Regions from separate parts of the Homo sapiens genome. Here region 1 is linked to region 2. The links come from fine-mapping of genetic effects on gene expression. A gene starts in region 2. The other region holds a variant in brackets. All regions are shown on one strand. Distances are from middle to middle. Region 1 holds the start of LOC105370408 (a long non-coding RNA gene). Region 2 holds the start of DHRS2 (dehydrogenase/reductase 2).

Evidence for each region.
Region 1: its variant is fine-mapped to the expression of DHRS2 in liver (GTEx, PIP 0.99).

Annotation. Positions count from the first base shown.
Region 1 is chr14:23,683,171-23,699,967 of GRCh38, forward strand. LOC105370408 (a long non-coding RNA gene) reads left to right here and starts at 9,561. Exons shown (of 3, transcript XR_943609.2): 1 at 9,561-9,802; 2 at 9,936-10,176; 3 at 13,687-15,764. LOC105370410 (a long non-coding RNA gene) reads left to right here and starts at 16,301. Exons shown (of 4, transcript XR_943617.3): 1 at 16,301-16,361. LOC105370409 (a long non-coding RNA gene) reads right to left here. Exons shown (of 6, transcript XR_007064083.1): 6 at 16,627-16,797. RefSeq lists an enhancer at 11,208-11,724. The variant A/G (reference allele first, on the strand shown) is at 7,576.
Region 2 is chr14:23,627,956-23,644,614 of GRCh38, forward strand. DHRS2 (dehydrogenase/reductase 2) reads left to right here and starts at 8,409. Exons shown (of 9, transcript NM_005794.4): 1 at 8,409-8,817; 2 at 10,872-11,049; 3 at 11,224-11,401; 4 at 11,839-11,940; 5 at 15,197-15,264; 6 at 16,156-16,207; 7 at 16,454-16,588. The coding sequence starts at 10,910.

The sequences.
Region 1 (16,797 bases), 55 kb after region 2:
AACATAGATTTTTTTTTTCAGTATCTTCATGGAAAAACTATAAGCTATCTTTTTTTAAGAGATGGAGTCTCACTCTGTCACTCAGGCTGGTGCCCATATAAAACATCTTTGAAGAGCAAAATGAAGCTCTGACTAAGTGGAAAGACATTTCGTATATAAGAAGGCTCAACAGCTTACAGATGTCCATCTGTCCCCACTTTAATAAATGAAGTAAATGCAATTCTGATCAAAATCTCAACAGTTGTTGCTTTTAAATAATGGAACTCATATAGAAAATGGAAACTTTGAAAATAGCAAAAACAATTTCGACAAAGAAAAATAAGATGAGGGTACTTGGCTTATTATAGCCCTGTGGTAAATAAAATGTTGTGTTATTGGAACAGGGATAGACAAGTAGACCTGTAGAATGGAATAGAGAGCCTGGAAAGAGACCCTCACATAGATGAAAATTTGGGAAATGACAGAAGTGTTGTTACAAGTCATTACAGGAAAGGAAGGACTAGTCAATAAATGATAACCACATGACTGGTTTTCCACATGAAAATAAATTAAGATTCCTACTTTAAACCATATACAAAAATAAACTAAAGTTGAATTAAGAGCTAAATATGAAAAATGCAAAACTGTAAAACTTTCAGGAAAAATAATTCATTAATTTGTTCATTCATTCAACAAATATTTATTGAGCTGCTGTTACACACTGGCCTAGTATTAAGGACAGAGCAGTGAATAAAACAAAGTCCTTGCTCTAGTGATGGTTTATGTTAACAGTAAACAAATAAATATGTAACATGTCAGGTGATGATAAGTGCCATGGAGAAAAATAGAGCAGGGTAAGGGACTAGGAAGTGATCATAGGTGGGTTTGCTACTTTATACAGGGTGGTTGGTGAAGGCTGTCCTGATAGGTGACACCTGAAGAGAGACCCGAAGGAATTGGGGGAGTTTGGCACGTGGATATTCAGGCAAAAGAAATTTTCAGGCAGAAAGACCAGCTGAACAATTGCTCTGAGGCCGGAGAGTACTTGGCCTTTGAAGAACAGCGAGAAGGCCAGTGTGGCTGGGATCGGGGAGAAGGGAGTGGTAGAAGATGAGGTAAAAGAGCAAGTAGTGAGGCCAGGGGACACAGGGCCTTGAAGGCCATGGCAAGGACATCTAAAGGGCATGGCACATCATGGGAGGATTTGTGCTAAGGAGCGACAGGATATGAGTGCAGTTTATAGGATTACTCTAGCTACTGTGCGGAAAGTAGATTGGAAAGGTGCAAGGGTGAAGGGGCAGGGAGTTGTGTTAGAAGGCTATTTCAATAGCCCAGGTAAGGGATGAGGTGACAGGGGTAGAGGTGGTAAGAAGTGGATGTTAATCAAGTGTTCTGATATACTTTGAAGGTAGAGAAGATATAATTTGCTGACGTGGGATGTGAGAGAAGAGGAGAAGCCAAGGTGTGGCGACTCTGAGGCTTAAGCAACTGGGCTAACAATGGTAACTTTTAATAAGATGGTGAACTCTATGGGAGGAACAGGCTTGCCGTAGAGCATTAAGAGCTTGGTTTTAAACACGTTAAGTTAGAGACACTTATCAGACATCAAGTAGGCAGCTGAACAGTATATGAGTCTGGAGTTCAGGAAAGAGGGTGGAGCTTGAGATAGCAATTTGAGAGTGGTCGGTCTAATAAATGGTATCTAAAACCATAGGGCTGGAAGACATCACCTAGTGGGTTAGTATTTACAGAGGAAGGGTCTGAGGACTGGGCCTTGGGATACTCCAATTTTAGAGTTGGGAGGAAAGTGAAGGAACCAGTGAATGAGACTGAGAAGAAGCATTCAGTGAGATTTGAAGAGAACCAAAGAGAAGGAGGTGTGTCAAGAAGGAGCAAGCGAATATGTCAAATGCTGCTGAGAGGCTGGGTAGGGTGAAGATTGAGCATTTATCATTGGATTTAGCAAAGCACAGATTATCTGTGACCTCAATGATAGTTTCAGGGCAGTGGTGATGAAAGGCTGTTTGGAGTAGGTGCAACAAAGAACAGGAGAAGAGTAAGTGGAGAGCGTGCACACAGATAATCTTTTTGAAGAGTTTTTCTGTAGAATGAGGGAGAAAAATGGGATGGTACTTGAGGGCATCATATATTAAGGGATTGTGGTTTTTAAATATAGAAAATATACAGAGTGTTTTCATGCTGATGGGAATGATCCAGTAAAGAACAATAACCTTGAGGAGGTGTGAGAAAGGATGGGACCCAGGGAAAAAAATGGAAGGTTGGTTTTACACAGGAGCACTGACAGTTTATCCACTGTACTAGAAAGAAAAGCAGAGAATTTGGAACCTATGTAAGGGATTGGTAATACTGTTTAAGGGATTGGTAATACTTTTTAGATTGCTTCTACAATCTCAGTGCAATAAGAAACAAGGCCATCAGCTAAGTGAGGAAGTAGAAGGTGTTGGAAGTTTGAGAAAAGAGAAGTTATAAGATAATTGTCTGTAAGAGTATAAGAGAGTGAATTGACCAGGGAAGTGAAGCAAGATTGAAGGGCAGCACTAAAGACCTTCCTAAGGTCAGTGGTCATGAATTTAAAGAAAGACCCTTCACCATGCTTGTGTGTTTTTCCCTAGTCAATATCATTTGCTTGTGTGCTATTAGAGAGTAAACAGAGAGCTACGTTTCTCCAGTTTTGGGTTTTTTTTTCCTGGAAAAGTCCAAGAGAGGAAGAGAAGAGCAAGGGAACAACTACACATACAGATAAGAGACTCTCATGATGGAAGGTGGAATTAAGCTCAGTTATATAGAAGGTGAGGACACGAATGGGGTGACGGATGTGCAAAGTGACAGGTCAGTGGAGAGCGAGCAGGTTCCATTAGGTTTGAAGAATTTTGAAACTGGGCTATTGGAGGGAGGATGCTGAAAGATGAGAAGCCATAGTGAAAGAGTGAGATGCTTCTTTCAAGGTAATGGGGAGAATGCTGTTGTTGGTAATGGCAAGGTCTCACGCATGACTGTGGAAGTTGGTGGCTTGGAGGAGGGTGAGGATAGGATCACCGGGAATGAAGGGGTCAAAGAACTAAGAAGATCATGCTTATGAATGTTGAAGTCACTAATAATTGAGACAGATCTGGTCCTAGAAAGAGACAATGACCCAGGTGCTAAAATCTTCAAGGAATGAGGAATGGTAGGTAACCTGGAGGTCTTAAGATGACCGCAAAAAGTAGAAGTAAAATGAGCAAAGCCTACCAAAACAGGAGTAGGTTCAGAATATGCAAATACCTTAAAAACAAATAAGAAACAAGCAAGCAACCCAATAAGAAATGGACAGAGAACGAACAGGCAATTTACAGAGGAGGAACCCTGAATGACCCAGCAGGAAAAGAGGATCAACCTCACTGCTAATCAAGAAAATGCAAAGCAAGACAAGATGCTCTTTAACATCTACCAGAATGACACAGATGAAAATGTCTGAAAGCACCAGCATTAGGAATGATATGGAGGAATAGGAGCTTTCATACAAGTGTAAGTTGCTACAATGGCTTTGGAAAACAAATTTGGTAATATACAGTAAAAATCAAGATGCATGTGATCTTTGACCCAGCTTCTTCCTCCCAGATATAAACTCTGGGAAAAGCTCACACATGTGTGGTGCAAGGAGATATGCACAGGATACTTATGGCAGCGTTATGTGTAATAGATAAAAATTAAAACAACCTAAATGACCGTCAACAGGAAAGTAGGTAAGTAGATTGTGTTTAGTCACACAATGAGAATATTCTATGCTGGTGCAAGTGAATGAACTAGAGATGCGTATGTTGTGGTTCAGTTCCAAAAACAAGGTTGCTAAAAATCAGTAAGTTGCATAATGATAAGTACAATGTGATAACACCACCTTTGGTAAAGTTTAAAAACAAATAAGACAATACATATGATTTATGAATGCATATGTAGTAAAATGTACAAAACATGAACAAGAAGGATATATACAACTTCTGAACAGCAGCCACCTCTGGGGAGGGCAGAGAGAGGAGAATGGATCTGGAAGAAGCGCAAAGTGGAGGTTCTATTCAATTTGTAATGTTTTATTTCTTTTCTTTTCTTTTCTTTTCTTTTTTTCTTTTTCTTTTTTTTTTTTTTTTTGAGACTGAGTCTCACTCTGTTGCCCAGGCTGGAGTGCAGTGGTGCAATCTTGGTTCACCTCTGCCTCCTGGGTTTAAGCAATTCTCGTGCCTCAGCCTCTCAGTGCTGTTAGGGTGTCAATTTTAGATCTTTCCTGCTTTCTCTTGTGGGCATTTAGTGCTATAAATTTCCCTCTGCACACTGCTTTAAATGCGTCCCACAGATTCTGGTACATTGTGTCTTTGTTCTCATTGGTTTCAAAAACATCTTTATTTCTGCCTTCATTTCGTTATGTACCCAGTAGTCATTCAGGAGCAGGTTGTTCAGTTTCCATATAGTTGTGCAGTTTTGAGTGAGTTTCTTAATCCTGAGTTCTAATTTGATTGCAATGTGGTCTGAGAGACAGTTTGTTTTGATTTCTATTCTTTTACATTTGCTGAGGAGTGCTTTACTTCCAAGTGTGTGGTCAATTTTGGAATAAGTGTGGTGTGGTGCTGAGAAGAATGTATATTCTGTTGATTTGGGGTGGAAAGTTCTGTAGATGTCTATTAGTTCTTCTTGGTGCAGAGCTCAGTTCAATTCCTGGATATCCTTGTTAACCTTCTGTCTCGTTGATCTGGCTGATATTGACAGTGGGGTGTTAAACTCTCCCATTGTTATTGTGTGGGAGTCTAAGTCTCTTTATAGGTCTGTAAGGACTTGCTTTATGAATCTGGGTCCTCCTGTATTGGGTGCATATATATATAGGATAGTTAGCTCTTCTTGTTGGAATGGTAAAGGGAATTGATCCCTTTACCATTATGTAATGGTCTTCTTTGTCTTTTTTGATCTTTGTTGGTTTAAAGTCTGTTTTATCAGAGACTAGGATTGCAACTCCTGCTTTTTTTTTTCCATTTGCTTGGTAGATCTTCCTCTGTCCCTTTATTTTGAGCCTATGTGTGTCTCTGCATGTGAGATGGATCTCCTGAATACAGCACATTGATGGGTCTTGACTCTTTATCCAATTTGCCAGTCTGTGTCTTTTAATTGGGGCATTTAGCCCACTTATATTTAAGGTTAATATTGTTATGTGTGAATTTGATCTTCTCATTATGATGTTAGCTGTTTATTTTGCCCGTTAGTTGATGCTGTTTCTTCCTAGCATAGATGACCTTTACAATTTGGCATGTTTTTGCCATGGCTTGTACCTGTTGTTCCTTTCTACATTTAGTGCTTCCTTCAGGAGCTCTTGTAAGGCAGGCCTGGTGGTGACAAAATCTCTCAGCATTTGCTTGTCTGTAAAGGATTTTATTTCTCCTTCACTTATGAAGCTCAGTTTGACTGGATATGAAATTCTGGGTTGAAAATTCTTTTCTTTAAGAATGTTGAATATTGGCCTCCACTGTCTTCTGGCTTGTAGAGTTTCTGCCAAGAGATCTACTGTTAATCTGGTGGGCTTCCCTTTGTGGTTAACCTGACCTTTCTCTCTTGCTGCGCTTAACATTTTTTCCTTCATTTTAACCTTGGTGAATCTGACAATTATGTGTCTTGGGATTGCTTTTCTTGAGGAGCATCTTTGCGGTGTTCTCTGTATTTCCTGAACTTGAATGTTGGCCTGCCTTGCTAGGTTGGGAAGTTCTCCTGGATAATATCCTGAAGAGTGTTTTCCAACTTGGTTCCATTCTCCCCGTCACTTTCAGGAACACCAATCAAATGTAGATTTGATCTTTTCACATGGTCCCATATTTCTTGCAGGCTTTGTTCATTTCTTTTTACTCTTTTCTTCTTGCTTTATTTCATTAATTTGAACTTCAATCACTGATACTCTTTCTTCAACTTGATCGCATCAGCTATTGAAGCTTATGCATGCGTCATGTAGTTCTCATGCATTGGTTTTCAGCTCCATCAGGTCATTTAAGGTCTTGTCTTCACCGTTTCTTCTAGTTAGCTATTCGTCTAATTTTTTTTCAAGGTTTTTAGCTTCCTTGGGATGGGTTCAAACATCCTCCTTTAGCTTGGAGAAATTTGTTAATACCGACTTTCTGAAGCCCAGTTCTGTCAGCTCATCAAAGTCATCCTCCATCCAGCTTTGTTCCTTTGCTGGAGAGGACCTGTGATCCTTTGGAGGAGAAGTGTTGCTCTGGTTTTTAGAATTTTGAGCTTTTCTGCTCTGGTTTCTTCCCATCTTTGTGGTTTTTTTTTTTTAAATTATACTTTAAGTTTTAGGGTACATGTGCACAACGTGCAGGTTTGTTACATATATAAACATGTGCCATGTTGGTGTGCTGCACCCATTAACTAGTCATTTAACATTAGGTATATCTCCTAATGCTATCCCTCCCCCCTCTCCCCACCCCACAACAGGCCCCGGTGTGTGATGTTCCCCTTCCTCTGTCCATATCCACCTTTGGTCTTTGATGTTGGTGACCTACAGATGGAGTTTTGGTGTGGATGTCCTTTTTGTTGATGTTAATGCTGTTCCTTTCTGTTTGTTAGTTTTCCTTTCAACAGTCAGGTCCCTCAGCTGCAGGTCTGTTGGAGTTTGCTGAAAGTCCACTCCAGACCTTGTTTTCCTGGGTATCACCAGTGGAGGCTGCAGAACAGCAAATATTGCAGAACAGCAAATATTGCAGAACAGCAAATATTGCTGCCTGATCCTTCCTCTTGAAGCTTCATCCCAGAGGGGCATCTGCCTATATGAGGTGTCATTCAGCCCCTACTGGGAGATGTCTTCCAGTTAGGCTACACAGGGGTCAGGGACCCACTGGAGGAGGCAGTCTGTCCATTCTCAGAGCTCAAACACAGTGCTGGGAGAACCACTGCTCTCTTCAGAGCTGTCAGACAGGGACATTTAAGTCTGCAGAAGTTTCTGCTGCCTTTTGTTCAGCTATGCCCTGCCCCCAGAGGTGGAATCTACAGAGGCAACAGGCCTTGCTGGGCTGCGGTGGGTTCTGGCCAGTTTGAGCTTCCTTGTCTGTTTTGTTTACCTACTCAAGCCTCAGCAATGGCAAACACCCCTCCCCCTTCCAGGCTGCTGCCTTGCAGGTCAATCTCAGACTGCTGCACTAGCAGTGAACAAGGCTCCATGGGCATGGGAACTGCCAAGCCATGCGCAGGATATAATCTCCTGGTGTGCCATTTGCTATGACCATTGGAAAAGTGCAGTATTTGGGCAGGAGTATCCTGATTTTCCAAGTACAGTCTATCACAGCTTCCCTTGGCTAGGAAACAGAAATACCCCAACCTCTTGTGCTCCCGGGTAAGGTGATGCCCTGCCCTATTTTGGCTTGCCTTTTGTGGGCTGCACCCACTGTCCAACCAGTCCCAATGAGATGAACCAGGTACCTCAGTTGGAAATTTAGAAATCACCTATCTTCTGTGTCAATCACACTGGGAGCTGCAGACTGTAGCTGTTCCTATTCAGCCATCTTGAAATGGAATCCCTACCTGAAGTGTTATCTTCATCCTGGGTAAATTGTTTGTTCAACTAATTTA[A/G]TATTTAGCCTTATGATTTTTTGACATCCTCAGTTCCAGTGAGCTTCAGCTCAACTTCACTTCAGCCACTTCCAATTGTGTTGGTGACTTAGACTTGTCATCACCCAGGTCCCTTCTATCTTGAAATATTAAATGTATACATCCTACTCTCTGGCCACGAATTCTTGCTTTTCCACTGGTTTCTGCTCTATTTCCTTTTACATCAGCTCTTCAACATTACAGAGAATTCTTGTTCCCTGACCTCTCTGTATTGTCCTAATCTGTAAATCCCTCTCTCATTTTATTTCCTTCTTTATATAGCCTAGACTGCACAATATATCCCTTCAGTTACTGTCTTGTAAGTTCTTTAATTGCTTTCCTCACTTCTTTTTCACTGTACACTGTTGGGAGAATATTTGTGCCTGATCAATCCAAATGTCCTTTCTTCCATAGCTAAGTTGTGGAAAGTTGTAGAAATTCACTTAACAAATTTGGCTTTTAATGTAAATTGACTTTTGATATCACTCGTCACCTTTTCCACATGATCTTACTCAGGACCACTTCCCTTCCCCATCAACACATATTTAAACCACCAGTTGTATTAGTTTGCTAAAGCTCTGTCTTTTTTTTTTTTTTTGAGACAGAGTCTTACTGTGTCACCAGGCTGGAGTGCAGTCATGAGATCTCAGCTCACTGCAACCTCTGCCTCCCAGGTTCAAGCCATTCTCCTGCCTCAGCCTCCCAAGTAACTGAGACTACAGGCATGCACCACCACACCCAGCTAATTTTTTTTGTATTTTTAGTAGAGACGGGGTTTTACCGTGTTGGCCAGGATGGTCTCAATCTCTTGACCTCATGATCCGCCCACCTTGGCCTCCCGAAGTGCTGGGATTACAGGGGTGAGCCACCATGCCTGGCCCAACTAAAGCTCTGTCTTAATCCATTTTCTATTGCTATTAACAGAATACCACAGACTAGTAATTTATTTTAAAAAGAAATTTATTTCTTCCAGTTCTGGAGGCTGGGAAGTCCACGCTTGAGGGGCCACATCTGGCGAGGGCCTTCTTATTGCATCATAAAAAGATAGAGGGGATTACCTGTCAGGGGGGCAACAGTATGTCAGCTCAGGTCTTTTTTCTTCTCTTTATAAAGCCACCAGTCCCATAATGGAGGCATAACTTGATGACTTTATCTCATCCTAATTTTCTCTCAATGCCTCACCTCCAAATGCCATAAACATATGAATTTGGGGATTTAGGTTCCAACAAATAAAGTTTAGGAGACACATTCAAACCATAGCAGGTTACCATAACACAGCACCATAATCTGAGTAGCTTAAACAACATACATTTATTTTCTCACAGTTCTGGAAGATAGAAGTTCAGAATCAGGGTGTTTTCAGGGTTGATTTCTTCTCAGGCCTCTCTCTTTGGCTTCTAGATGGCCATCTTCTCCCTTTGTCTTCACATGGTTTTTCCTCATGTGTGTCTACATCCTAATCTCTTCTTCTTATAAGGGCATTGGTTATATTAGATTAGGGCCCACCTCAATGTCCTCATTTAACGATCATTACCTCTTTAAAGACCCCACCTCCAAATACGTCACATTCTGAGGTACTTGGGGTTAGGACTCCAATGTATGAATTGGTGGCAGGGGTTAGGCTTTGGCAGATAGACACAATTCAGCCCAGGACAGTCTTCTTAAGCCTGCTCCTTTTCCACCTCGCTCTCCCTCTTTGTAGAGGAGACAGAAATAATTATCTGGCCTCTCCCACTGCCTTATAAATCTGACTGTGAGGAGTTCTCTTCTTTCCCCACCCCCTCCTATTGAGGCAGAAATTTAAAAATAAATATGCATTCATTCACTCTGAAAGTAACAGGCAAGGCAAGGGTTAAAAAGAAAAAAACAGGTTTTCCTCTGCCTAGCAGAGGAAAGTGCAGCAAGCTCACTTCAAGGACAGTTATAAGATAATACTGTTTGAGAAGCCAAGGCCAAAGGAATGGACCCCAGACACCCCCCAGCTCCAGAGCAAGGTTGAAGGAAAAAAAAAGAAAGACAAATTCTTTTACTGTTACTCCTTTCCCAGGCTTCTTAAGCATGATTATGTTTTACAAATGTCTGTATTTAGCCACTTGTTGTTTTTCTTTCAATGCAGCTACAAGGCCACCAGCTATGCAAGGCCACAAGTTATGCTATGCTATAGATTATGTGACCTATCATATTTGATAAACGTTTGGGTTTATTTATTGTAAGTCTGCTTATAAAAACCTGTCTCTGTCTTTGTTTAATGCTCAGCTTTTTGGATGTGAGTCCACTGAGCTGGCGTGTACCTACAATGAACAATCCTTCTGTACTCTCATATCAGTCTCTCTGGTCCTCAGTTTCCTGCAACATTTTTGGTGACCACAAAAGGACCAGAGACAGCAGGTTTACTGTTTCCTTTGGCTCTGGGCGCTGGAGCCCTGGGCCTCAGGAGACCTGTGACCCCAGGTACCACTGGAAGAACTTCAGCCCGGAGAGGAAATCAGCTCTCCCCTGACCCGGCGCCCCTACCCAGCAGTGCAATGGAACCTGAAAGGAGCTACAGGACAATTTCAGAAACAGCACCCTTCAGGAACTGCGGTAAGGTTTTAGGGCCCAAGGCAGGACCTGTCCCATGGGGATGGAAGGGGAGCCTAATCACCTCCTGGGATGTGCCGAATAGTTCGACCCAGAGGGGCTGGGGGCAACAGGAGTAGCTCATCAATTCGGATGAATCTCACACCCCAGTCGACACAGGATGCGAGAGTGGCTCGCTAAGTCAGCTAGGAAACTGGAGATGGTAAGAGTGGCTCGCCACCCCAACTAGGAAACTGGAGGTGGCAAGAGTGGCTCACCACCCCAACTGGGAAAGTAGAGGGGGTGAGAGTGGCTTGCCACCCCAATTACAAACACGGGAACTGGGAGTGGGGAAGTGTGTGGAAGTGTGTGAATGGAGGGGCCTAATTAGGCTCATCAGCTGTGAAGTGGGGAGTCACAGATCTCTTAGCATGGACTGTATCCTCCAAGAACGTGTGGGGCCAACTAAGACTAGTGGTGATCTGCATATGGCTAATAGGAGCTGCCCCATAGCTCAGAGTTGCAGTGAGAATAAGGACCTCTGCAAAGCCAAGCAGCATCTGAAAACTCCCATAATAGGAGATGGTATATTCGGCCGAAATGAGAGGAACAGTGAGTGTGCAAGAGTGATTGTGCTGTGTCGTAAAGGGAGGAATGGGAGGAAAGTCATCAAAAGTTACTCCATTGGAGTACATGTTACAGAACCTTAAGAAAGATTTTGCAAGGGATTATGGACTTAAGCTAAACCCCCAAAGATTGAGAACTCTCTGTGAATTAGAGTGGCCTTCTTTTGGTGTTGGGTGGCTGACTGAAAGAACTATAGATAGGGATAATTGGCTGTGCATTTAAGGTGGTGACAGGGCTTGGAGGACAGCCAGGGTACCCAGACAAATTTCCTTAAATTGATTCATGGTTAAATATAGCACAGACAAGAGCAGCCTGGATCCAGCCCTATTTAGCAGCTTCACTGGCAGACACAGAGTTAAAGGGGAAGTTCCAGAGAGAGCAAGAGAAGCCAGTTTTGCAGGAGCTGCCAGAGGGAACAGAGATTCGTCCCAGCCTACCCCCCTTTGCCAAGGCTAACAGCCCCCCAGGAACCAGATTCAGGAGCTAACACACCCCAAGTTTCACCCCAAAGGGCAGAATCGGAGCCTCGAGAGGCCAGGGAAGGAAGTCAAGATAGTCAAGCAGGCAGTCTCAGATCTGGCTGTGCTTGAGCTATGCAAATGCCTCTCAGGGAGGTGCGAGGACCCATCTATTATTATGATCAAGGCCAGGTTCAAGGGGGCAATGAACTTTCATCTACCAGCCCTTTTCAACCACTGATCTTTTAAACTGGAAATGCCACATTCCCTCCTACACGGAGAAGCCCCAAGCTCTTACAGATCTGATGCAATCCATCTTTCTGACATGCAATCCAACCGGGCCAGACTGCAGGCAGCTCCTCCTCACATTATTTAACACTGAGGAGTGCAGGAGAGTAACATAGGCAGCTCTCTGCTGGCTAGAAGCCAATGCACCAGAAGATGCAGTGAATGCTCAGGTACGTGCTCAGAGTCAGTTCCCAGACCAAGATCCCAACTGGGACCTGGTGGATGCAACACAACTTCAGCGTTTGCAGAGGTACCAAAAGGTCGCTTTTGCAAGGGATAAGAGCTGATAGAAAGCAATTAATATAGGGAAGATTTCAAAAGTGCTTCAGGGAGGTGATGAGAGCCTAAGTCAGTGGCTTTGTGAAGTATTACAGAGACTTTGTGAAGTATTCTGGTTTTACACCCCATTTCACCCTGAGGCTGCTGAAAATCAGCACATGGTAAACACAGCATTGGAAGGGCAAGCCCAGGGTAACATCAAGCAGAAGCTGCAGGCATGAATGCCACTCAGTGTACGTTAATCAGGACCAGAGAACAAAACAGAAAAGAGCAAAAGCAACAAGTGTGGTGCCAGGCAGCTAGGCACGCCAAGGGTTAAGCCCCTTTCCCCAGCCCGGCTCTATCTGGAAAAAGAGGGGGGAGGGGGGGACCAGCACCGGGAGAAGAGCAAAGGAGATGGAAGGGCATAATTCTGACATTTTGCGGCAGGCATCTCCCAAGCCTCTGGGCCAATGATGGCCCAGGGGGACTACGGTTGTGCAGACCCCACCCAGCCCAAAAGAGTAAATGTGAGAAGGGAAAGAAGAAAGTAAAAACAGAAATCCGAAAGAAACAGGAGAGACCTACGGCAGTGTGTGCGTGGGGGCGGGGCCGGTGTCATTGCCTGGCCCGCTGGCCTTAGGAACAGGAGAACTCAGGAAGGAAAAAGGAAGCAGATTGAAGGCTTAAGAAAAAGGCCAATCTGTTGGCAGCAGTCTTTATAGAGAGATTAGCAATGTGAGAGGACGTGGACGCAAATGTGGATGTGGAAGCGGTCAAGTTAGGCAGAGATTCAAGAGCCAGACAAGGCTAGAAAGAGATTAATGTGCGGGATGCAAAAAGAAAGGACACGGGAAGGATGAATGTCCAGAAGGTAATAAAGAGAGTGGTAAATGCTGTGATATAAAGAAGTCATTGGCCAAGGGCTGCCGCACGTTAGAGGAACCAGATACTGATCTGATTGGGCTGGCAAGAGCTGAAGGGTATGAGGACTAGGACAGACCAGGCTCCTTTTCATTAAGCCTCCAGGATCCCGTGGTCACATTAGAAGTTGAAGGCAGCAGGATTCTGCCACATCTGGATCCCAAATTTCTCACTGATGGCTAAGCCACTATATAAAGTTACAAAGGTTGGGTCGGGGGAAGAAAAAGTATCCTTCCTCTGGGACACTGAACTGAGAAGGAGCCATGCCTTCATGCCTTGTGAAAAACTTGCTTATAGACTTTACCGAAATGCCCCATGCTGGAGGCTGGCAGTATATGCTAGTGTTTATTTGCACCTTTTTCATGATGGAGTGAGGCTTTCCCCACTAGGACAGAAAAAGCACGAGAAGTGACTAAAGTACTGTTAAGAGACATTATCCCCGGGTTTGGACTGCCTCTAACTTTAAAGTCAGACAATGGGTCAGCATTTGTAGCTGAAATAGTGCAAGATTTAACAAGACTGTTAAAAATAAAATGGAAGTTACACACAGCCTATCGGCCACAAAGTTCAGGAAAAGTGGAACCACGAACCGGACACTCAAGCAGCTACTGAAGAAATATTGCCAGGAAATTCATCTGAGATAGGATCAGGTTTTGCCTATGGTCCTCCTCTGAGTCAGGTGCACCCCCACCAAACAAACTGGGTATTTACCCTATGAGATTTTGTTCGGTGGGCCACCCCCAAATCATAAGTCAAATTAAAGATGATCTCCAGGAACTAGGGGAATTAACTTTAAGAAAACAAATGCAGAAATAGCCATGCAAAGTGTTCATAATTAGGTACATGAAAAAAATGCCTAAAAACCTGATACCCCTTTAAACCTGGTAACTCTAGGTTAAAAAGTAGAACCCAACTTCTCTAAGACTCATGTGGGATGGGCCCCATACAGTAATCTTGTCCTTTCCCACTGCTGTTAAAGTTGCAGCTGTTGTGTCTTGGATCCACCACAGTTGGCTGAAACCGGCAGCTCAGGACAAGTGAACCAGCCAGCAGGACCCAGACCATTTGACTCGGCTGATCTTGTGACAAGACTGAGTTGCTGCTGAGTACAACAGCCCTGCTCTGGTCACTCCAGAGGCTGACCAGTCTACACACGGGTGAAGCTTGAGGAAACAACAAGCTCTGCTCTAGTCACACACCAGAAGCTGACTAGTCTATGCACAGCTGAAGCTTGAGGACTTGTCAAGCAAGTAAATGTAGTTAGAAATCTTAGGACTAGTAGTTTTCCTGTAATACTGTTTTACTATTGTTCCGTCGCTGTGCTCAATCTTCTTCCCCAGGTAAGGACCTCTTTTGTCCTTGCTGGATATGAATATGCTGTACATTGCTTTGCTGTTGTTACCCCCCTTAACCATGCTAGAAGAATCACCCACAGAAGGGTGTCTCCACCGTACACATACTACTTGGTCAGGGAACAGCATAACTAAAACTCTATTGTACCATACTTATTATGGGTGTATGGGGAATCGCTTAGGAACTTGTACTTATAGTCAAACCACCTACTCAGTTTGTGACCCAGGAAATAACCAACTTTATGTATGTTATGACCCCAAGTTTTCACCTGGTGAATGGTTTGAAATTCGTGCAGTCAAAAGAAGGTCTCCTCTTAAACCAAACCAGGGTCCCTCCCTTTTACTGAGGGACTATTTCTCTGTATTTTGATGCTCGTTAGGTAGCATACCAAGACTCACCCATCTGTGGTAACCTACCTTTGGAAAGATACTATAGAAATAACTACAAATATGTATGCACGCCAAGAGCAACTCCACATTGTTCCCCTGGGACCCCAGAGAAAGATTGTTGGTATTGCATATCATGGCACCCTAGCCACAACAAAGGTCAATTATGCTTACCAAAATGCTGGTGGACTGCAGGTTCCTCCTTACATGTCTACATACACACATACCCAGCAACCTTCATATATGTTATCAAAAAGGGAACCCAGACCCGTCTGGCCCAGCAAGGCACAAAAATGAGGAACGCTATCTATCAGAACAGATTAGCTTTAGACTATCTCCTAGCCCTAGAAGGAGTAGTATGTGGAAAGTTCAATTTAACAAATTGCTGCCTGGAAATCGATGACAATGGAAAGGCAATTATGGAAATAACTGCAAGAATGAGAAAATTAGCCCATGTTCCAGTTCAAACTTGGAAAGGGTGGTCTCCAGATTCTCTCTTTGGAGGCTTGGTTTTTATTTTTCTGAGGGTTCAAGACTTTAATAGGAGTGGTTCTGGCCATATTAGGAAGTTGCCTAATACTCCCTTGTCTCTTACCTCTCCTTGTTAGAAGCATTCAATCGAGTATAGAGGCAATAGTAGCTAGGCAAACTACCACTCAGCTAATGGCTCTGCATAAATATCAACCTTTGTCTAAATAAGAAAACTCGTCCCTTCAGGCAGAACTAAGTAATAGTGATGCCTTCTATTAAACTTCTTTTATAAAAGGCATCAAAGGGGGGAAACTGAGGCAGAAATTTAAAAATAAATATGCATTCATTCACTCCAAGAAAAGTAACAGAAAAGGCAAGGGTTAAAAAGAAAAGAACAAGTTTTCCTCTGCCTAGCAGAGGAAAGTGCAGCAAGCTCACTTCAAGGACAGTAATAAGATAATACTGTTTGAGAAACCAAGGCCAAAGGAATGGACTCCAGATACCCCCCAACACCAGAGCAAGGTTGAAGGAAAAAAAAGAAAGACAAATTCTTTTACTGTTACTCCTTTCCCAGTCTTCTTAAGCATGATTATGTTTTACAAATGTCTGTATTTAGCCGGTTGTTGTTTTTCTTTCAATGCAGCTACAAGGCCACCACCTATGCAAGGCCACAAGTTATGCTATGCTATAGATTATATGACCTATCATTTGGTTAACTGCTTTTGTTTTATTTATTGTAAGTCCACTTATAAAAACCCGATTCTGTCTTTGTTTAATGCTCAGCTTTGTGGATGTGAGTCCGCTGAGCCAGTGTGTACCTAAAATAAACAATCCTCCTATACTCTCATATCAGTCTCTCTGGTCCTCAGTTTCCCACAACACCATAAGTGAAGGCTGTTGCTGTGCTTTGAATATTTGCATGCCTCAAGAATTCATGTCAAAACTTAGTCCCCAGTGCAACAGTGTTATGAGGCAGGACATTTAGGAGGTGATTAGGCCATGAGGATTCCACTGTCATGAATGGGGTTAATGCCTTTATAAAAGGGTTTGAGGTAGTGAGTTCCTCCCTTCTATCCCTTCTGTCATGTGTGGACACTGTGTTTGTCCCCTCCAGAGGTCGCAGCAACTTGGACACAGACAGTAAGCCCTTACCAGACACCAAATTCACTGGCTCCCTGATAGTGGGCTTCCCAGCTCCCAGAACTGTGAGATAATAAATTTCTGCTGTTTATAAATTACCCAGTCTAAGATCTTTTGTGATAGCAGCAGGAATGGACTAAGTCATAAATTGGTGCCAATGAAGCAGGAAATTTCCCTGACCTTTTCGTGGGCAGGAACTGGAGTGCATAGGCACTAGAAATAGTCAGCTGCTTTGGTGCCAGCAGAGTGGACTCCACTTGCTTGGTCCCACTGCATTCCACCCCTCACAGGAGGGGGAGCACAGGTGAGTGGGTGCAGGAGCCGGGGTGAGTGCTTTTGGCCACCGGCAGGAGCAAAACTCCATGTGGCCTCGCGGCAGCATCTATGGGGGTGCCCATTATCCCTGAAGCCCTAGAAAGAGTGTTACAGTCAGTGCTCTTTTAGCTTTGCCATTCGCGGTTGGCTTAAGTGTTAACGGCTCAGTGGAGGGTCAGTGTGACAGCCTTTTGCACTGACACTCGAGTTCTTATTCAGTGTCCAGGAGGAATAAGGTTGCACAAACAAATTGGAGATGGTAAATGTGGGGGATTTTATTGCCAATGAAAGTGGTTCTCAGTGGGAAGGGGAGCTGAAAAGTGGATGGTGTGGGAAGATAATATTCCCCTAGAGTCCAGCTGTCCCTGGCTGAACTCCTCTCCGAAGCAATGCCATCAAGCCGTCCCTTTGAAGTCAAGCTGCTT
Region 2 (16,659 bases):
AAAAAGTTCCCCCAGTTTCTCACTCTGCCTTGTGCCCCTCAGTCGAATTCTTTCTTCTGAAGAGGCAAAAACTGAAGTTGCTGCAGACCCATATGGATTTGCTGTTGCTAACATACTTTGGTGCAATGTGACTCATATGTTCCCTAGTGGTAACATCTTTAGGTCTCAGATCCTGATAGGGACCAGAAAGCTCTGGAATTCTCTGTGCAACAAAAGATTACATCAGGGACAGAACGCACTCCCAGCTGAAGAGTGACTCAATTATTAGGTTGGTGCAAACGTAATTGCAGTTTTTGCATTGTTGAAATTTGCTGTTTGATATTGGAATACATTCTTAAATAAATATGCTTATGTTGGCCGGGCACGGTGGCTCACGCCTGTAATCCCAGCATTTTGGGAGGCCAAGGCAGGTGGATCACGAGGTCAGGGGATAGAGACCATCCTGGCTAACATGGTGAAACCCCATCTGTACTAAAAATACAAAACAAAATTAGCCGGGTGTGGTGGCAGGTCCCTGTAGTCCCAGCTACTCAGGAGGCTGAGGAAGGAGAATGGCATGAACCCAGGAGGCGGAGCTTGCGGTGAGCCAAGGTCACACCATTGCACTCCAGCCTGGGCGACAGAGTGCGACTCCGTCTCAAAAAAAAAAAAAAAAAAGAGAAAAAAAATATATATGCGCTTATGTTATATATCATTTTAATGTGCATTTCTTGCTTTGCATTTTTTTTGGCTAAGGACTTGTTACTTGCTGTTTATTTTATACTTATTTTAGACTATGGAAATGGTGTTAGACAAAAAGCAAATTTGAGCGATTTTCTTATTTGAGTTCAAAATGGGTTGTAAAGCAGTGCAGACAACTCACATCATCAACAATGCATTTGGCCCAGGAGCTGCTAACAAATGTACAGTGCAGTGGTGGTTCAAGAAGTTTTGCAAAGGAGACGAGAGCCTTGAAGATGAGGAGTATAGTGGCTGGCCATTGGAAGCTGATGACAAATTGAGAGCAATTATCCAAGCTGATCCTCTTACAACTGCACTAGAAGTTGCTGACCATTCTACATTCAGCATTTGAAGCAAATTGGAAAGATGAAAAAGCTCAATAAATGGATACCTCATGAGCTGACTCAAAGTCAAAAAAATTATTATTTTAAAGTGTCATCTTCTCTTATTCTATGCAACAACAGTGAACCACTATCCAGTTGAAAAGTGAATTTTATATGACAACCAGCAATGACCACTTACCAAAGCCAAACTTGCACCAAAAAAAGGCCATGGTCACTGTTTGGTGGTCTGCTGGTCTGATCCACTACAGCTTTCTGAATCCTGGCAAAACCATTACTTCTGAGAAGAATGCTCAGCAAATTGATGAGATGCACTGAAAACTGCAACACCTGCAGCAGGCATCGGTCAACAGAAAAGGCCCAGTTTTCCATGACAATGTCCAACCACTCATTGCACAACCAACACTTCAGAAGTTGAATTAACTGGGCTTTGAAGTTTTGCCTCATCTGTCATATTCACCTGACCTCTCACCAACTGACTACCACTTCTTCAAGTATCTCGACAACTTTTTGCAGGGAACACACTTCCACAACCAGCAGGATGCAGAAAATGCTTTCCAAGAGTTTGCTGAATCCTGAAGCATGGATTTTTATGCTACAGGAATAAATAAACTTATTTCTCATTGGCAAAAATGTGTTGATTGTAATGGTTCCTATTTTTATTACTAAAGATGTGTTTGAGCCTAGTTATAATGATTTAAATAATTTAATTATTATTATATTATTAATACTATATAATTAGTCATATTCTGTATTCCAAACCCTTTCTTTGAAAACTCCTACGTTCCCTCCACGAATTGAAGAGTGGAATTGCTTTCTACTCTTCCCCTGCTAGCATGGATAATAAAGACATCTTGCTCCCTCTTATCATAACTATTATTATTTTGACTTCTTTCCACAAGCAGCAAGCAGCTGGACTCTTTTGCTGGTTATGCTTGTTAAGTGGTATGTGCAGCATTCTGCAGAATATTACTCAGACAACAAGTCCTGCACTTCCCCTAGGTTTCCTCCCAAGTTGTGGGTGAGGCCTTTTCTGAAACCCTCCTCCAACCTTTCTGAATTCTGGGGCTATAAATTCCAGGAATCTTTGTGTTGTTCAGATAGAATCTGCAGTGCCTGAAATCCAGCCTGCTGCTTACTCACATCCTCATACTCAGCTGCAGACTGCCTGACAGAAGGGCTGCCAAACTGCACTCCAGACAGACAGGTGCACAGCCAGGTAAGCCTGGGCCAGCATCACACTGCCCAGGGCAGGCATGATGTGGCTCAGGCTGGGGCTGCCTTGCCTCACTGCCTTGGGTTGGGTCTATAATGACTGGAACTGCCCATCTTCACTCCTGTTCACTTTTTATGTTGATGCTCTTTCTTCCTGCCTCTATGTCTGCAGCTCAGTCTATTTCTTCTTTGATTATCAATACAAAGCTCTTGGGGCTATCAAAGTCCTTTGGACCACCCAAGTCAACCCCTTATTTTACTGTGATACAGATGGAGGCAAGAGGGGAACAGACTTGTCCAAGATCACACAGCTTCTGCTGATATCTCCTTAGTGCTGATGAAAAAGAGTCAAACTGTAAAATATTTGAAGAGATTTATTCTGAGCCAAATGTGAGGACCATGACCCATGACACAGGTCCAGGAGGTCCTGGGAATATATTCCCAAGGTGGTTGGGTTGCAGCTTGATTTTATACATCTTAGGAGAACAGAAGCTACAGGCAGAGACACAAATCAATACATGTAAGGATTACATTGTTTTGGCCCAGAAAGGCAGGACATCTTGAAGTGGGGGCTTCCAGGTCACAGGTAGATTTAAAGATTTTCTGATTGGCAAGTGGTTGAAAGGGTTAAGCTCTGCCTAAAGAGTTGAGGTCAATAGAAAGATATGTTTGTAGTTAAGATAAGGGGAGTTGTGGGAGCCAAGGTTCTTGTTAACGTAGATGAAGCCTCCAGGTAGTAGGCATCATAGATAATAGATTGTAAATATTTTTTATCAGATCCTAAAAGGTGCCAGACTCTTAGTTAAATCTCTCTTGGATCAGGAAAAGACCTGGAAAGAGAAGGGGATTTTCTATAGGATGTAAATTTTCCTCACAAGAGACAGCTTTGCAGGGCCATTTCAAAAAATGTCAAAGAAATGCATTTTGATGTAAAATACTTCAGTTTTTTTCAGGACCTGCTATCTGTCATGTGATGCTATACTAGAGTCAGGTTAGAATTTGGTATCTTATTGCTAAAAGTCTGTTTTTTCAGCCCTAAGATCTCCATTTTACTGTTAATGCTGGTCAGTCATGCCTGAACTCAAAAGGGAGGAGGGTATAATGAGGCATGTCCAACCCTGTATTCCCATCATGGCCTGCACTGGTTTTTTAAGTTGACTTTGGAATGCCCTTTGCCAAGCAGAGGAGTGCTTTCAGTTGGTTGGGGAGCTTAGAATTTTATTTCCTGTTTACATTATTCTCTTTTCTGATTTTCAATATTTCTAACTCTTCCATGTCTCTCATTCTTTCTCCTCTAATCTTTGTTTTCTTCCTCTACCCCCCCCACCCCTTTCCTTTTCCCTTCTCTTCTCTCTTTGGACCAGTGCTGAAGGCCATTCACCTCCAAGATGGGACTAGGTTAAGGGTGTGCCCATTCAGCTTCCCCACCCCCAAATTTGGGCATCTGAATTGATAAGCATGGAAAGGGGTATCAGAGTGGGCAGTGCCAGGCTCAGGGACCATTCTAAGCTCCCAGGACCTGTGGTCAATTCTGCTGCAGCTGACCGAGCTGACTGTTTTGGGGAAAGCATAAGTGAGTGGGGTAGGGTGAACCAGAGGCCTTGGAAGCTGCTCACTCTTCCCATCCTCCCAGGCAAAAGAGGGGCTTTGCATGGGAAGGGGAAGCAGGGGAGACAGAGGAGGCCTGACTTCATCTCTGCAGGTTGTTTACCTGCAACAGTCCAGGCAGAGTTGCCTTTCCTTACAATAGGTCAGCTTTCCTGCAAACCACATTGAGGCAAGTTCAGACAAGCAGGGCTTGGTAAGAACTGTTAGAGGCCAGAAAGGGGACAGCCAGACTTGCTGAGCTAGGAACACATCTCACAGGTGCTGTTACTCTAGCCTTCCAGCAGGGGGCGTCCTGTCCCGACAAAAGGCGAGTCCTCTTTTTCCTGCTGTCCTCCCAGCCAAGGAGACTGGATTCCTCTCAACCTCAAAAGGGGGTTAATCTGAGCTCGCAGCAGAAGGAGAGGAGTTCCCCAGGGGGGGCATAACAATGTTCAGAATCTGGTGTCCTGTTTAGAAAAGGTAGACCAATCAGGAGCTGAAACCCCTTGTCTCCACGTAATGCAAGGCTGTAAATATGACCTTGCAGGAAGGAGAGAGGCGTGAGAGAGTAAGCGAGAGCAACAGCAGGCAGAGTGGAAGCAGCTGGGAGGAAAGAGGGAGGAGGTCTAGGACCTACAAAGATTGTTTTTGGAAATACAATATCAGAAGAGATATAAATCGGAAATCAAGGCTTCCTTCCCAAAGCAAAGCATTTGGTCGCCTGCATTTTGACACTGAGTACAGACTGATATTTAATAGACAGTTTCTTCACAATTCCTGAGCAGCACCCATTCACTTATAATTTATAGATACAGACCCCTAACTCGAAGGAACTGAGTTATGCAAGAGTTGCTAAGGAACAAGGGGAGATGCAGTAGGTAAGGCAGGGGTTGCTTAGTAACCAGGAGTCCCTTGGTGATGGAGTGGCCAGAGCATGTCTGGAACTGATGAGGGTCTGTAGACAGAGTCATCCCAGGCCAGAGCCTCCTGCAAGTTCACATCTGTCGGCCCCTTGGCCCAGAGCTGCCAGAGCCTGCCTCTCTTCACCTTCCTGGCACTGTCCTGTCCCACATGAAAAGCACACTGCTAAGTCCCTGAGTGCCCTGCTAACTAACCCCTTGCTGGAACCACTCCTTCCCTCCCTCTCTCAACAGGAAGCTCATCAGATTCTTCCATTAGAGTAGGGAATGGCAGGCCAATGGGAATCCCACATAGGGGAAGGCAGGAGCCTCTGGGCTAACATGAATGTGGAGCTGGGAAATTAGGATTTGGGTGAAAGAGGGTCTCCTAGACAAGCATCCCTGGCATTTTCCAGTTCATGGTGATATATCTTCATACCTGAGTCTCCCATGCCAGATCCTCTCCCTGCCTTCACATCTGCGCATAGCTACAGAGGCACACCGTTCCCTTCTGAAGGGCCTCCTGAGGGCACAGGTCTCCACACAGCAGCCTGGATGTCTGTGGCTGGTTTAACTGGCTCAGCTCCACGGACATCCCTTCAGAGAGCTTCAATCAGCACCGGCCTGCTGGAGTCATTCAGAACTGCAGTCTGCTTTCTCAGGCATGAGCCCCCCATTCTCTGTATTCCAGGCACATAGGCATCCCTGCTCTCTCCCAAACACCCTGGACATCCACACCCTCCATTCTTCCTCTCAGCCTGTTCCCCTTGACAGGAGGATCTATCCTGTTGCTGCCCCTGTCAAAATCCTCCTCAGTCTTGCAGGTCCTATCTACCTGCAACTTTCCCAGCCTGATTAGCTCACCAGCCTTATTGAGCACTCCTGTGTTTCAAGCCCTGGGCCCCAAGAGGGAGGAGTGGAGCCTGTGTTCAAGGAACTCACATGACACTCATTACTGATCCTCTGCTTCCTGGCTAGGATACTCCATGAAAGCCCTCTGTGAACTGAATGTTTAAAATCAGAAAGTTTTGCTTATTTAAAGCAAAGCCCTTTGCATAGAACAACTTTGAGAAAGTATCTGAGATGCTGGCAAATTTTCTTCTGAGAAGGGAATTGGAGGATTTAATTTTTGAATTAAGTTTTAAGCTGCTTGAATTTTAAAATTTACCATGAGCAGGTAATCTTTACTTTTAAACTTTTAAATTGTGAATTATAACACATACGTAAAAAGTATACACATACATAGGTGATATAATATATCTTCATGGACATCATGTAGGCATCACTTGCTTATCAAATACAACATTGCCAGCACGCTAGAAGCTCTTTAGTTTGCCCCTTCTTTTTTTTTTTTTTTTTTTTTTTTTTGAGACGGAGTCTCCCTCTGTCACCCAGGATGGAGTGCAGTGGTGCAATCTTGGCTCACTGCAACCTCCAACTCCTGGGTTCAAGCGACTCTCCTGCCTCAGTCTCCCAAGTAGCTGGGACTATAGGCATGCGCCACCACACCTGGCTAATTTTTGTATTTTTAGTAGAGATGAGGTTTCACCATGTTGGCTAGGCTGGTCTCCATCTCCTGACCTCAAGTGATCCCCCTGCCTTGGCCTCCAAAGTGCTGGGATTACAGGCATGAGCCACCGTGCCTAGCCTGTTTGCACCTTCTTAATCATAACTGCCTCCCCACAGCTCTACTGCGGAAATACCCACTCTCCTCACTTTTGTGGTGATCACTGCCCTGCATTTCTCTGTATTTTTGTCACCTGTTTGCCTTCTTAAGCAATATAGAATTGTTTTACCTGTTGTTGAAACTTGTGGACTCAAATAATATGTATTCTTTTGTGTCTGACTTCTTTTACTCAACAGTATATTTTTTAAGATTCCTTTATGTTGTTCAGTGTGGCTTCAGCTCATTCATTTTCATTATTGTATAGTATTCCATTATAGAAATGCAACACAGTTTGTTTATCCATTCCACCGTTAATAGGCATATAGACTTTGATATGGTTTAGGTCTGTGTCCCTGCCCAAATCTCATGTCGAATTGTAATCCCCAATGTTGGAGGAGGGGGCCTAGTGGAAGGTGATTGGATCATGGGGGCAGATTTCCCCCTTGCTGCTCTTGTGATAGTGAGTGAGTTCTCATGAGATCTGGTTGTTTGGAAGTGTGTAGCACCTCCCCCTTTGCTCTCACTTCCTCCTGCTCCAGCTGTGTAAGTTCTGCCTGCTTCATTTCACCTTCTGCCTTAATTGTAAGTTTCCTGAGGCCTTCCCAGCCATGCTTCCTGTACAGCCTGTGGAATTGTGAGTCAATTAAACCTCTTTTCTTTATAAATTACCCAGTCTCAGGTAGTTCTTTTTTTTTTTGAGACAGGGTCTTGCTCTCTCTCCCAGGCTGGAGTACGGTGGTGCAATCTCAGCCTACCACAGCCTTGACCTCCTGGGCTCAAGCAATCGTCCCATCTTAGTCTCCCGAGTAGCTGTGACTACAGGCATGCACCACCACACCCAGCTAATTTTTATAGAGACATGGTTTCACCTTGTTGCCCAGGCTGGTCTCAAACTCCTGAGCTCAAGGGATCTGCCCACCTTGGCCTTCCAAAGTACTGGGATTACAGGTGTGAGCTACCGTGCCTGGCCTCAGTTAGTTCTTTATAGCAGTGTGAAAACAAACTAATACAGACTTGTTTCCAGTTTGGAACATTCTAAGCAGGCTTCTCTGAACCTGTGTGTACAGTCTCTTGGTGCACACATGACCTCCTGTCTGCAGGATGCAAGTTCCCTCTACAGAGTCAGAGATCTTTATTTTCAACTTCTCCGTATAATGCCAAATCATTTCCCAAAGTGATTGTACTTACCCTCTACCCAGCAGTGAATGAGAGTTTCTGTTGATTTTGCTTTTTCAACTAGAAGTGAGAGGTGACAATATGCTAGCAGCCCTTGCTCACTCTTGGTGCCTCCTCGTCCTCCACATCCACTCTGGCTGCACTTGAGGAGCCCTTCAGCCCACCACTGCACTGTGGGGGCCCCTCTCTGGGGCTGGCCAAGGCCGAAGCCAGCTCCCTCTGCTCGCCAGGAGGTGTGGAGGGAGAGGCGCCGGCAGGAGCCCACACTGTACAGGGCACTCACCGGCCAGCAGGGGCTCCGTGGGCCGGCCGGTGCCAGCTGGGCCTGACTGGGGGATGAGCTCCCTCTGGGCTGCTGGAGTGCCTGGGCTAGGTGCCGCAAAGTCCTGCAGTGTGTGCCATTGAGAGGTGAAGCCGGCTGGGCTTCTGGGTCCGGTGGGGACCTGGAGAACTTTTCTGTCTAGCTAAAGGTTTGTAAATGCACCCATCAGCACTCTGTGTCTAGCTAAAGGTTTGTAAATGCACCAATCAGCAATCTGTGTCTAGCCAATCTGGTGGGGACTTGGAGAACTTTTGTGTCTAGCTAAAGGATTGTAAATGCACCAATCAGCACTCTGTGTCTAGCTAAAGGTTTGTAAATGCACCAATCAGCACTCTGTCAAAACGGACCAATCAGCTCTCTGTAAAACAGACCAATCAGCTCTCTGTAAAATGGACCAATCAGCTCTCCATAAAATGGACCAATCAGCAGGATGTGGGTGTGGCCAGTTAAGGGAATAAAAGCAGGCTGCCTGAGCCGGCAGCAGCAACCTGCTCTGGTTCCCTTCCACGCTGTGGAAGCTTTGTTCTTTTGGTCTTCATGATAAATCTTGCTGCTGCTCACTCGTTGGGTCCGTGCCACCTTTAAGAGCTGTAACACTCACCGCGAAGGTCTGCAACTTCACTCCTGGGGCCAGCAAGACCACGAATGCACCGAGAGGAATGAACAACTCTGGACACACCATCTTTAAGAACCGTAATACTCACCGCAAGGGTCTGCAACTTCATTCTTGAAGTCAGTGAGGCCAAGAACCCATCAATTCCGTACACATTTTGGTGACTTTGAAGAGACTGTCACCTATCACCAAGTGGTGAGACTATTGCCAAGCAGTGAGACTATTGCCAAGTGGTGAGACCATCACCAAGCGGTGAGACTATCACCTATCGCCAAGTGGTGAGTACCATCAGATCCCTTTCATTTGCTATTCTGTCCTATTTTTCCTTAGAATTCGGTGGCTAAATTCTGGGCACCTGTCGGCCAGTTAAAAGTGACTAGCGCAGCCGCTGGACTAAAAACGTGGGTGTCAGGCTTTCTGGGAAAGGGATCTCTAACAACCCCTGGCTCTGTGGAGTTGGGAATGTTGTTTTGCCTGGAACCAGCTTCCGCTTTTCCTGTACTTCTGGGCTGAGCTGAGGGTCAACAGAGAGGAAAGCCATTCAGCTCCGGAGTCCCCACAACAAGTTGGTTGACCCTGCGGCCATGAGCGGAACTCTCAAAGGCATGTTGCCCAAGTGAGACTCACCTATCTATCCTATCTATCCTGACCCTTGCTCGCTGGGTCCTAATGCCTGCCAGACAAACTTTCTCTCTCCTCTCTTCTCCTAGGCTAGTCCCACTTCTAAAAAACCACTCCCTGTCTCTGGTGCTTTTCTAATTTCTCTTATAAGAATGATTTCTAGTAAAAATTTCAGGACTCTGTTACCTTCTTTAGGCACCTGGGCTCACCAATCAGAAAGACATAATTTTTGCCCAAAGCCCAGTTGTAGGGGGAACTATCTGGAATTTTAGAATCCCTCCTCAGATAAGCAGGTCTAACAAAAGCTATTCCTGAAGCTAGGATAGGGGGAGCCTCAGAAATTGTATCCTTCCTATTCATATAAGTGAGGACAAAAGGTGTCACTTTTCCAACCCTGGAGACCCCTTCCCTCCCTCAGGTTACTCTTCTTCATTTTTGGGGCATAACATCTTTATAGGACACGGGTAAGTTCCCAATACTAACAGGAGAATGCTTAGGACTCTAACAGGTTTTCGAGAATGCGTCGGTAAGGGCCACTAAATCCGATTTTTCTCGGTCCTCCTCATGGTCTAGGAGGACAAGCAAGGGTGCAGCACTCTATGTCTAGCTAATCAGGTGGGGACTTGGAGAACTTTTGTGTCTAGCGAAAGGATTGTAAATGCACCAATCAGCACTCTGTGTCTAGCTAAAGGTTTGTAAACACAGCAATCAGCACTCTGTCAAAATGGACCAATCAGCTCTCTATAAAACAGACCAATCAGCTCTCTGTAAAATGGACCAATCAGCAGGATGTGGACAGGGCCAGATAAGGGAATAAAAGCAGGCCACCCGAGCCAGCAGCAGCAACCTGCTTGAGTCCCCTTCCACACTGTGGAAGTTTTGTTCTTTCGCTCTTTGCAATAAATCTTGATTCACTGCTGCTCACTCTTTGGGTCCGCGCTGCCTTTAAGAGCTGTAACACTCACCACGAAGGTCTGCAACTTCACTCCTGAGGCCAGTGAGACCACAAACCCTCCAGAAGGAATGAACAACTCCAGACGCACTGCCTTTAAGAGCTGTAACACTCACTGCGAAGGTCTGCAGCTTCACTCCTGAAGCCAGCAAGACCACTAACCCACCAGGAGGAATGAACAACTCCGGACGGGAGGAATGAACAACTCCGGATGGGAGGAATGAACAACTCCGGACACACCATCTTTAAGAACTGTAACACTCATTGCGAGGGTCCGTGGCTTCATTCTTGAAGTCAGCGAGACCAAGAACCCACCAATTCCAGACACAGAAGCAGTTAATTAATAACTGGTATAATTATTTGTTGGTGCCTGGCATCTCATTTAACTGGGAAGCTGCATGGTTGGGGTCCAGGGCTGAGTCTGTCGTTTACTAAGGTGTCCCCGCCTCTACTGCCCAGTGCTTGACACATTGCCAGTGCTCAATGTTTGCTATGCAATGGATGGAAAAATCACCCTTGTCTAATGAATGTTGAGTCTCACATTTTAATTTGTGAATAATTTCCCCAGTTTTATAGCTTAGGAGTTTTCATGGATTGCTTTCCTGACCTGAGGTTCACATGTTTGAAATTTACCCTAACCAGCCTGACTCTCTGCCACTTTCTGTTGCTGGCCTTGTCTGTCTGGAGGAAGGAGGAGGGTAGATTACCTTCATGCTCACTGAGGCATCAGTGATAAGTGAAATTGATTCTTTCCCCCAGGCCTGATTCAGCAGGAAGCATCTCAGACACCAACCACTATGCTGTCAGCAGTTGCCCGGGGCTACCAGGGCTGGTTTCATCCCTGTGCTAGGCTTTCTGTGAGGATGAGCAGCACCGGGATAGACAGGAAGGGCGTCCTGGCTAACCGGGTAGCCGTGGTCACGGGGTCCACCAGTGGGTGAGTGCTGGATTGCCCATGGGTCCTGGCCCCTCACAGGGTCCTTGTGGCTTCCACAAGGACTCAGGGTTTTAAAGCAAGACCCAGCCTTATTTGCTGATTTCCAGAGCTGGGTAGAGGAAGGACAGTGGAGAGAGGCTGAGGCTGACTTTTGCCCTCCATCTCTGCATTCAGGATCGGCTTTGCCATCGCCCGACGTCTGGCCCGGGACGGGGCCCACGTGGTCATCAGCAGCCGGAAGCAGCAGAACGTGGACCGGGCCATGGCCAAGCTGCAGGGGGAGGGGCTGAGTGTGGCGGGCATTGTGTGCCACGTGGGGAAGGCTGAGGACCGGGAGCAGCTGGTGGCCAAGGTGAGGGGGCAGGCGGTGGAAGGACACAGAGAGGGGAACATGCAGAACCTTTCCTTCACTGCTTGGCCCTTGTGGGGTGGGTCTAGAATATGTCCTGAGACCATGACTGCACCCAGGCTGCCCAAGCTAACCTCGCTACCCAGAAGGTCCCTCAGGAAAGTGACCTGTTCGTGAGAGGACCCTCACCCCACCCCCAGGCCCGGGGAGAATCACTGTGGAGGAGGAGTCTGAAGGGGTGAGGGAGGTCCCCAGAGGGACTCCTGGAGCAGACCTTCCTCTCTCAGTGCCTGGCCCCAGGAGCCTGCCCTTGGGACACCTAGGTCATTTTCCTTTAGGAGCTCTGCAAGCTTTGCCTGAAGGCCTTATGACCTGGGCTGCCCTGGGAGGGATAGTCCTCCTCAGGCCATCTCCACACTCATCCAATCTCCTCTCCGCAGGCCCTGGAGCACTGTGGGGGCGTCGACTTCCTGGTGTGCAGCGCAGGGGTCAACCCTCTGGTAGGGAGCACTCTGGGGACCAGTGAGCAGATCTGGGACAAGGTGAGAGGCCTCCCCTGGGGAGGCGGCTGAGGGCCCGATTCCAGCTCTGCACTGGGCTCCAGCATGCCTGTGCCCACCAAGACTCTGTTTCCCTCCAGAGGTTATGGGAGAAGCAGGCCCTGGGTGGTAGTCCTGCCTGGCCAGCTGTCTCCCAAAATGTGCCCGGATGCTACTTTCTGGCTTGTTGGTTCTTAAATCTGGCCCCCACACTTTCTGCTTTGTTTTCTCTTCTCATCACTTTTTCATTTAATCATTCAGCAGGTATTTATTGCTGTCTGCCAGGCACCACTATTCCAGGCTCTAGGGATACAGCTGTGAATGGTTAGTCAGAGTCTCTCTGTAAGAGTCAAACATTTTTGTATGGTACACCCTTTTGTAGGGGAAGATACGGATACTGTGTTTTTCTTTGGTGACCTGTGCCTGTAGCGGAGACTGTCTCTCCTAGAAGGGGGCTCCTCACTGAGTCCCACACAAACTTGCCGACAGGACCAGATCCAGCCATCAGCATTCCGGGGGCTTAGACATCCCAGCCTGCTGTAAGTCCATTCAAGGATTCTGCTACCTTGTCCACAAGGGACCGGGAGAGACCTTGTAAAATGCCTTGAAGCTCATCTTGGGCCTAGTTGTTCCCCAGTGACTTCTGTTCCCTTCACTCTCATGTTTTGTTTTCTGTTCTCTCTGCCAGAATGCGTCGTGATGAATCTCATTCTTTCTGCTATTGTGAGCATTCACCACTCTGCCCTAAGCACTGGGTCAAAGTGTTTCCTGCCTTCTGGCCTTAGAGTGTTCTGCCTTCCCTAGATCCTGCACTCTCACTTGCCAACATCATCTTCAGGCTGGCCCCTCCCTTCTATCTGCCCTTGGCTGGGTGCCCTTGGCTACATCCTCAGAGATGATCTGAAATTTGAGCTCCCTGCAGCCCCTGCTGAGCAGCTTCCCCAGGCTCTTTAGCTATGTTGTTAATGCCTCCAAAGGATCATTTGTGATTTTATAGCTGGGATTTTATTGCTGACAGTCTCCTAACCCTCCTGAATCATTTTGCTGTTTAGTGTCTCAGTTCACAGGATCATGACTCTTTTTCTCGAAACTGTTGCAGTCCTCCCTCCTGAAGCTGAGGGCAGATGCCAACAATCTGACCTTACTTTCTCTGATTCTCCCCTGTTCTCCAAGGACTTGGCCTTCAGTGAGCAATTCTGTACCACTGGACAGAAATCATTGATGACTCGTCCCCGATCACATCTGCCATCACCTCAGAGGTGAAATTGTCACAAAATGAGTTTAGAATTTACCAGATGCTCTGCTTTCAACTAAATGTGTTTTCCGTAGGTGTCCTGTAAGGAGAATTCCTTACCACTCATCTTATTCTTGAGCCAGTTTTGAGGCCATCTCCAGGCAGACCCCCCTTCTTTCCAGCAGGTTGGGAAACCTCTGATCTGTTAAACTACCAAAACCACATCACCTCCATCCTTCTCCAGCGACTCCAGCGTGCGCCCTCTTTCAGGCTCATGGATAGTTCTCTGCTCAGAACTACTTGGCACACTGAGCTACTCTCTCTTACTTTCTAATGGGGCAGTTTTCTTCATCAAGGGAGGGAGTCTCACCTTTTCTTTGGCTTGGTTTTTGTTCCTGAGTCCAGGAGGGGTCTTACCTCAGCCCCTCACTCAGCCTGATGCACATGGAGTATTGGACAGATATCCTGTGGGCTGGTTGGGGTCTGTTTTGACCAGGAAACCCTTACAGCTAACCTAATCCTCAATTCCTTCTTATTAGGGACCTCAGGGTGGTACCCACTTCTGACATCTGGACCACTTCTTGCAGTCATTGGGGGTCATCCCCCACACTGGTAACCTGTCATCAAATGGGCCACAGCAACATTCAGCTTAAGTATTTCTCCTTCCCACATCCAAGGGATTGAGTGGGAGTGAGATTGGGGGGTGGAAAAAACAGTGAACAGTCCTGGTGAGTTGCAGATGTGGTCTCATTCCCTAGAGATGCAGGATGCAGCTGACCTGAATCAGGACAGATCCCTGCAGGAGGGACTCCTGGTGCCATGTCAGTCCCACCTGGCACTGCCCTAGCTCCCAGGCTCCGCCTCTGCATCTTTCCTTGCTACTTCCTCTTTCACTTCTCCCCCGTTCCCAGACCCACCAGACAGAGCTTCCAGAGTGTCAGGACATGTGTGACTTAGCCCAGATTCAGACTTTAGTCACAAGCAGGATCAGCATAGACATCTAGCTCCCAGCATGGCAATTCTCTGTTGTGTCTCCCTGTTTGTATTGGCTGCAGGAAAGCTCAGAGCCAAGTCTGCGATAAGCTGGTGTGTGTAGGCCCTTACAGCCTGCATTTTTATGACCAAATAATAGAATAAATGCTCAGTCCTTATCACATGCTGTGAACTGTAGGCACCAACCTCACTCTTGCTTTTTCTTATTTTTCTACACTGATTTTTCCTTTTCTCCATTTCTTCACACATAGTACCTATTTGATTTATTTTATGCTGTTGCATTGTGAGTATGCCTTAAATTCTATGGGGACAAGGTAAGAGGACAAGCAAATGAAAGCTCAGAGAGACAAAAAAGGCTCTTCCAGAAATCTCCCTTGCTTCTAGCACCTGCTTCCCCTCCATCAGGCTGTCTTCAGTCTTTCTCCAGAGGCCTCTGCTTACAGTGTGTTGTTGTTTTCTTTTTAAGAGACAGGGTCTCACTCTGTCACCCAGGCTGGAGTGCAGTGGCATGATCATGGCACACTGCAGCTTCAAACTCCTGGGCTTAAGGGATCCTCCTGCCTCAGCCTCCTGAGTAGCTAGGATTATAGGTGTGCACCACCACACCAGGCCAATTATTTAAAAATCTTGTAGAGACAAGGTCTCACTATGTTGCTCAGGCTGGTCTTGAACTTTTGGCCTTGAGTAATCCTCCCACCTTGGCCTCCTAAAGTGCTGAGATTACAGGCATGACCCACTGCCCCCAGTCCCCATTTTCTTTAAAAGGCCTGAACATTTCCTTCCTCGTGTCAGTCCTGAACAATTCACATTTTCAGGGCTCTGCTCACAGGCCTGTGACTTAGCCTGCCTGCCTATGAAACCATTAGCAAATTGGAAATACCTCTTGCACCAGTCAGAAGGGGGATTGGTTTCTCTTATATGCACATACATTGGGTCTACTGCACAAATTACAGGGCTCCAAGTGTCTTATGAGAGCAGGACTTGGGCTGACCATGTCTCTCTGCCCTCACCCATGCTCTGCTCTGATTTCAGATCCTAAGTGTGAACGTGAAGTCCCCAGCCCTGCTGCTGAGCCAGTTGCTGCCCTACATGGAGAACAGGTATGGCAGGGCGGGGGTGGGGACCAGTCGGAGTTGGGGACCTGAGGTGGGCACAGAAATACAGTCGGTAGCACAGCCAGTAGTGGGTAGAGGACAGAAGAGGTCTGGGATCTCCACATCCCTCATCTTCTTGTCCTGCCTCCCCATCTGTGTGGCTGCCATTCCCAATTCCAGTGGCTGCAGGATGAGAGTAGTATTCCAGGGGCCCAGGCATAGCCTCCTTGGCCTTGACATCAGCAGGTTTGGGACAAGGCTATGCTTTAACTCCTTGACCTTGTGGGCTGGTCATTGTCACCTTACCTGCTCTCTGTTCTTACCAACTTAAAACCAATGACAGGGTTAGCCCCATTCCTCTCCATAGGAAAAAGCCTGTCCCAGACCTCTCCTCATGCCTGCGCTTGGTCTCCAGGGACCCTGCCTGTGTTCCAGGTCCTGCAGATCTGACTGTACCCCTCACAGACACACCCTTAGGAACTGGCCAGGGGCTGTCTTCAGTAGAAGGAAAGTTCCTGACTGTCACTTCTGGTCTCCCTTACCCCATCTGCTCCTTAGAGGTTGCTCATTGATAGGCACTCACCATCAGCCTTGGGTGCCTCTTCACAAAGCCCACCCTGCCCTCTCCTTCAAGCACCTGGCAAGAGAGGAAGCAGAAGATAAGGGTTCTGAGCATGGACATCGTATTTATGAGAAATAGGCATGGAATCCTAGCTCTGCCGTGTATTGGCTGGTACTAAACCTTTCTGAGCCTCAGTTTTCTGAACTCTGAGATGGGGACAGTAATAGGACCTGTGTTGCTTCTGTGAGGGTTGCATCATTTAATGAACTCATGATAGTGTCACCATCAGTGGTAAGCTCTTAGCTTCAGCTTCTCTTATGTTTGTCTTGTCTCAGGAGGGGTGCTGTCATCCTGGTCTCTTCCATTGCAGCTTATAATCCAGTAGTGGTAAGTGCTTGGTCCTTGTGCTCCTGAGTGGTATAGGGTGAGGGGCAACTTTGTTCTTTTCCTCAGAGCCTTACAGACAAAGTGCCTGGGACAGACCCCCACCATCCTCCTGCTGCCCTGGGCTGAGCTTGTCTCCATGTGGGTGGGAGGGCTGCTGGGCCTGTGAGATCCCTGTAGGTGAGAAATCCAACTGATGCTTTCCCCCACTCTCCCATATCCTAATCACTCTGTCAATTCCCTTCCCAGGCGCTGGGTGTCTACAATGTCAGCAAGACAGCGCTGCTGGGTCTCACTAGAACACTGGCATTGGAGCTGGCCCCCAAGGACATCCGGGTAAACTGCGTGGTTCCAGGAATTATCAAAACTGACTTCAGCAAAGTGGTGAGGATTGGGTGTGTCTTCCATCTCCCAGTCTGGCTCAGTGGGAACCCTTCCCAGTGAATAAGGGATCA